Linked DNA regions of Homo sapiens: region 2 is linked to region 1. Evidence: fine-mapped expression QTL. A gene starts in region 1. The other region holds a variant in brackets. All regions are shown on one strand. Distances are between the middles of the regions.

What was found. PIP is the estimated chance that this variant, and not a neighbour inherited with it, causes the effect. A credible set is the group of variants that fine-mapping cannot tell apart.
Region 2: its variant is the best candidate, but not a certain one, in a credible set for the expression of KAT14 in prefrontal cortex (GTEx, PIP 0.54).

The regions. Positions count from the first base shown.
Region 1 is chr20:18,136,145-18,139,059 of GRCh38, forward strand. KAT14 (lysine acetyltransferase 14) reads left to right here and starts at 1,719. Exons shown (of 11, transcript NM_001392073.1): 1 at 1,719-1,907. PET117 (PET117 cytochrome c oxidase chaperone) reads left to right here and starts at 1,719. Exons shown (of 2, transcript NM_001164811.2): 1 at 1,719-1,907. The coding sequence starts at 1,812. RefSeq lists a silencer at 2,088-2,207.
Region 2 is chr20:18,100,370-18,103,284 of GRCh38, forward strand. No RefSeq gene overlaps it. Among named protein-coding and RNA genes, the nearest start is that of KAT14, 36 kb to the right of the region's middle. The variant C/T (reference allele first, on the strand shown) is at 1,415.

The DNA.
Region 1 (2,915 bases):
TGAGACCCTGTCTCAATTAAAAAGAAGAAAAGAAAAGAAAAAGAAAAAAATAGTTGCTTCTCAGTTTGATGATATGCAGTCACTCTCACAAATCAGTAATTTATGCGACAATAATCACGGAAAATATACTGCTTAGGCTTATAAATATTTAAACAGATAAACATACTTTTTTTTTTTTGCAAGACCTCCCTCAGTCCCCCAACCCACTTTTTTATTTGACACAGTTAATAATAAATGATTTCTTAAAAGTAGAATACTTTTTTTTTTGCTTCTAGTATCCTGAAAATAAAGAAAAGAGTACATTTCAAGAAAACAAGTTGAAAAATTAGTCACAATAAAATGAAAGGCGATTGATCTAATTCCCTGATGTACACTCTAAGGACATACAGCTCTGTTGAAGGCTCACTGATTTACAGGGGAAAATATCTAGGATATACCACGAATAAAAAGAAGTCTAATATAATTTTTAAAGAGAAATATGCAAATACACCCTGAACTGAATTTCTTCTCAAAGTTCATTACAGCAAGAACTCCATTTTCCAATTCAGTGGTACATTCTCTCTAGGCTGCAAAAAATGCTGTGGACAAAATGACATTTGGAAAAGGTATCTTTAAAGATACCTTTAAGAGCAATAGTCCCCTTATGCCATTTACGCTCACATAAGAGACTGGAATAGCAAAGCACTATGAACAGTAATGAATGTTGTAAAACTCCCTGGTGAGGCTTAATCAATACTGCCTATAGCCGTGTCCACCGGAAGAAGCTCGTTCTCTGTGAATTCTAGTGGGAAAGAATGATTGAATGATGAACACGTTTTCACTGGTTGCTCTATCAGATACTTAAAAGTTTCTGGGAGGCCTTGCCTTTTTTACCCGAGGAAGAAGTGAAAATGCGTCTTGCACAATTGCTTAACTATTCCCAACGCAAGACTTCTTTATATCATTTATTTCCCTTGTATTACTGGCGCGGAAACTTGGGTGTAAAAGTGATCACAAAGATTACATGGGGCCAGGCGCGGTGGCTCACGCCTGTAATCCTCTCGGGAGGCTGAGGCAGGAGAATCGCTTGAATCCGGTAAGGTTGCAGTGAGCCGAGATCGCGCCACTGCACTCCAGCCTGGGCGATAGACAGAGACTCTGTATCAAAATTATAATAATAATAATAATAATAATCCGAGCCTGACCAGTCGCCCCACAGCGTCAAGGTGAAACCAGGTGACCGCGACTACAGCGTTTAATAATGGGTCCTCAGGCAAAAACTCCACGGATGGGAACCCCGCGCCTCTGAAGCTGCCTAACGAGGCGGTCTCCTGGTGGCGCCTGCCCCGCCAAAGGAGCAATGAGGGGGCTGCGTTTAGGCGAAGCCGGTATTGGGCGAAGCTTCTGGATCAGTCAGGGGCTCAGAAGGGACGTCTGTGGGAGAGGGGTCAGCACGGTATCCAGACCCCGCCCGGGGTGAGGTTGGTACTGAACTGACTGAGGGGCATGGAACCCCCACCCTCCACCCTGGTAAGGTGCCGGGGCCAGTTTGGGCCGGGACTCCTAGAATTTGAATCGGGGGTGGTCTAACGCTGTCGCCTGCGGGGTGTGCAGGAGGCCCCTAGTGAAGCCAAGAGTTCGTAGAGCCTGGGCGCCGCTCTATGCTCGGCTCTCGATTGCTCACGCCTGGCAGCGGCGAGCGGCGCACGCGACGGCTGGGGCTCTGCGCTCGAGGGGTCGAGCCTGGGCAGTACAGGCGGCGGTGCGCACTCTGCGGCGGCCTCTGCGCCTCGGGCGGGCGGGAGAGAGAGGCCGCGGCCGCCAGCGTGGGGATGTCTAGGAGCTCGAAGGTGGTGCTGGGCCTCTCGGTGCTGCTGACGGCGGCCACAGTGGCCGGCGTACATGTGAAGCAGCAGTGGGACCAGCAGGTCGGTGTCACGTGACCGTCTCTTCCGGGCCCGCGCGCGCGGCGTCGACCTGGGGCCTCTCGTGGTCTCTGCCCGCTCGGTTCCTCAGCTCCTCTTCGTGTCTTTCCCCCGCGGTGGCGCGGCCCTGCACCCCACGCGTTTGCGGCTGCGGCCGGCGGCCGCTCTGCTGGGCTCCGGGCGCTGCAGCTCCCGGCGGGCGTGTGCAGCCCGCAGATTCAGGACGACCCGGCTGCCCGGCTTAGCGCCTTTGGAGCTCCGCGCTGAAGGGGCCTTGCTCCGCACAGGCACGGCACGCAAGCTTTTGGGGTGCCCAGTGGCTCTGTTTTCAAGTCACAGCCGGCCCGCAGGGTGCGGACCTTTCCACATCTCACTTGGGCCGCTAGAAAATAGAAGGTGGGGAAGGAGTTTCTTGGGGTGCATTCTGCAAGCTACCAGCCTCCCTCCTGGCCCAAGGTTGGGGTTAAAGCCTAATGTGTTTTACGTGCTATTGATTTTATCCCATGGTAAGGGAGCCCCCCTTCCCCGTACTCACTCTCCATGCCTTTGACCAAGATAATTTGGTGAGATGTTTGCACTTCTCGTTTAAATGAACAGTTTGCTATGGAAACTAGAATCTGGGAACGATAGAGATAACAGTCTCCAGATTTTTTTTTTTGGTACTTTTATTTCAGGAAATATCCGTGACCTGCTGATCAGCAGTGACTATTCTGTCCTCTCAGTTCATATTTTCTTTCTTATTCAAGTTGACAGACCTTTAATGGGTGATTACTGTGTGGAAGCTACCTCACTAAGCACCTTGGGAATACAAAGATAAGGAAACTCCACTCTTCCAGAGTCTATCAGTGATTCACGACCTTGCTGAGAACAGGGTCATTGGTGAATTTTCAGAAAACAACTTGGCAGTGATTGGGGTTGAACCTAGTTCACCAAGGGTGAAAATAATGGACTGGATGAATCAAGAGTAAACAGTCTTTTCTTGATTTGCCTACCCAGACCTTTGGACTGTGC
Region 2 (2,915 bases), 36 kb before region 1:
TATCTGGGCATTTCTTTTCTTTTTCTTTTCTTTTTTTTTTTTTTTTACACGGAGCCTCACTCTGTTGCCCAGGCTGGAGTGCAATGGCTCAATCTTGGCTCACTGCAACCTCTGCCCCCCAGATTCAAGCGATTCTCCTGCCTCAGCCTCCTCAGTAGCTGGGATTACAGGTGTGCACCACCATGCCCAGCTAATTTTTGTATTTTTAGTAGAAACAGAGTTTCACCATGTTGGCTGGGCTGGTCTCAAACTCCCAATCTCAGGTGATCTGCCCACCTCGGCATCCCAAAGTGCTGGGATTACAGGTATGAGCCATTGTGCCGGCCTGAGCATTTCTTATGAGGAGACAAAATTAGAAAGATGTCTTGAAAAATGTAAAGAAAATAGGCCAGGCGCTGTGGCTCACGCCTGTAATCCCAGCACTTTGGAGGCTGAGGCGGGCGATCACCTGAGGTTGGGAGTTTGAGACCAGCCTGACCAACATGGGAAAACCTTGTCTCTACTAAAAATACAAAATTAGCTGGGCGTTGTGGCGCATGCCTGTAATCCCAGCTACTTGGTAGGCTGAGGCAGGAGAATCGCTTGAACCCGGGAGGCGGAGGTTGCAGTGAGCCGAAGCCATGCCATTGCACTCCAGCCTGGGCAACAAGAGTAAAACTCTGTCTCAAAGAAAAAAGAAAGAAAAAGAAAAATTTAATGAAATTAACTGCCCAGTTATTAACTAGACTAGTGATAAAAATTACTAGTCAGGATTTAAAATTTTCTACTATTTGGCATAAAATATTAATTTATGCATGCTGAGTCATTGAAGCACCCCAAGAACCTGAACATTCTTAGGGGACACTCTTTGGAAATGGCTGGCGTGAGCATTTCAGAGGTCACTGGGCCTCAGAGCTGGGGGCCTGGGAAGAGGGAGAAACTAGGAGGGACTTACAGGGGTGGCAGGGGCTGGAAGGGCAAGGGGAGGATCGAGAGTGATTTCATTTATCTCATGCTTCTGCCTGGAAACCTGTAACTGAATTGGCACTTGTCATGGTGAGGCTATAGCTGTTTGCGGGAAAAAAACAAACAGTTGTTTGTTTAAGCTATTGCTTATCAGGTTTTCTGTTAGTTGCAGTCAAATGTTTTTCTAACTAGACAGCCTGTAGGTGGAAAGTGGGGCCTTTGGAGAAGGAGGATGGAGAAATGGATGCCGCAAAAGTGTCCTGGGCCAGGTTCCCTAGCAACAGAGCTGAAAACGGGGATGCTTGTGCAAAGGCTTTACTGGGAGAGTGCTCACAGGGAAGTGTTGTAAGGGAGTGAGGGAAGTAGGCTGGGCCCGGAGGAAAAGCCAGACAGGCATGTGGATTCAGGTGAAGTCCTGTCTCAGCCTCATCCCACAGGAGCTCTGAAGTATAAGTTGCAACATTGTGAA[C/T]CTGTCTGCCTCGTGTGTGTGTTTGGGAGATGGGGGGTAGGATGAAAATTGTGTGGCAGCCCCAACTGCTGAGCAGCACTGGATAAAGCTGAAGGTGTGAGCCTTAGCAACCGCATCTGCAGCAGCTGGGGGCAGTAAAAGGAATCCCAGGGGTCCACGCAGGCACCAACAGCATCTGCTGCAGAGGATGGCTAATTCTTTGTATGATTTATGGCAAATCTTAAAAGGTAATTTATATGCACACACACAAAAATAGCTAAAATGTTACCTACACACTGACCAGAATACTTCCTAAATGGTGAAGAAGGCAGAGAGCAATCGGAACTCTTTTACGTTGCAGGCTCAACCACTTTGGAAGACGATTTGGCTGTACCTGCTAAAGTGAAACATATGAAGACCCTACGATCAAGCAATTCCACTCCCTTGACTATACCAGTAGAAGTCTGTCCATCAAAGACTTGTAGTAATGTCAGCAATAAAAAGGAATGTACAGACAGGCGCTGTGTAGTGACAGGGATAGGTTCTGATAAATAAGTATTTGTGTATATCTAAACATACCTAAACCAGAAAAGGTACAGGAAAAATAAGGTTTTATAATCTTATGGAACCACCGTCATATATATGATCTGTTGTTGACAGAGACGAACTTATGGTGGTGCATGCCTGTTGTGTTGGTGAATACCACAGGAATTATCTTGGTGAAGGAATCCAGTCTCCAACAGTTACATGCTATATGATTCCATCTATATGGCATTCTCAAGAAGACCAAAGCCATAGTAATGGAAGACAGATCAGTAGCTGTAAGGGACTGGGGAAAGGGGAGGGGATTGTGATTCTAAGGGGACAGTAGGTGAGAGTTTTTGGGGTGATAGAACCAACTATATCTTGATATTGTGGTAGTTACATAGATCTATACACATGTTGAAATCCATAGAATTGCACACCAAAAAGTCAAATGAACAAAAATAATTTAAAAAATATGTATAAGAATGTTCATAGAAGGTGTATTTATAACAGCCTAAACAGGTAGCCTCCCAAAAGTCCATTATGAGCAGAGCAGGCATGCAAATTGTGGTATGTTGGTTCACACTGGGAAACACTACCCAGCACTGGAAAAGAACAAACTACTGGAACATGCAATAGCGCGGATGAGTCTCAGATGTAATATTAAGTGAAAGAGGACAGACACAAAAGAGAGCACACTGTATGATTCCATCTGCATAATGTTCAAAATGGGCCAAATTGAGATGATACAGTCAGGACAGGACTGGAAGGGGACATAAAGGAGTCTTCTGGGGGTGCTAGAAATATATTGTGATCTGGGTGGCAGCTTCATGAAAGTATTCATTTGTTAAACTTCATCATGCTCTACACTTATTTTTTTATTATTATTATTATTAATTATTTGAGACAGAGCCTCGTTCTGTCGCCCAGGCTGGAATGCAGTGGCGAGATCTTGGCTCACTGCAATCTCCACCTCTCAGGCTCAAGCAATTCTCAT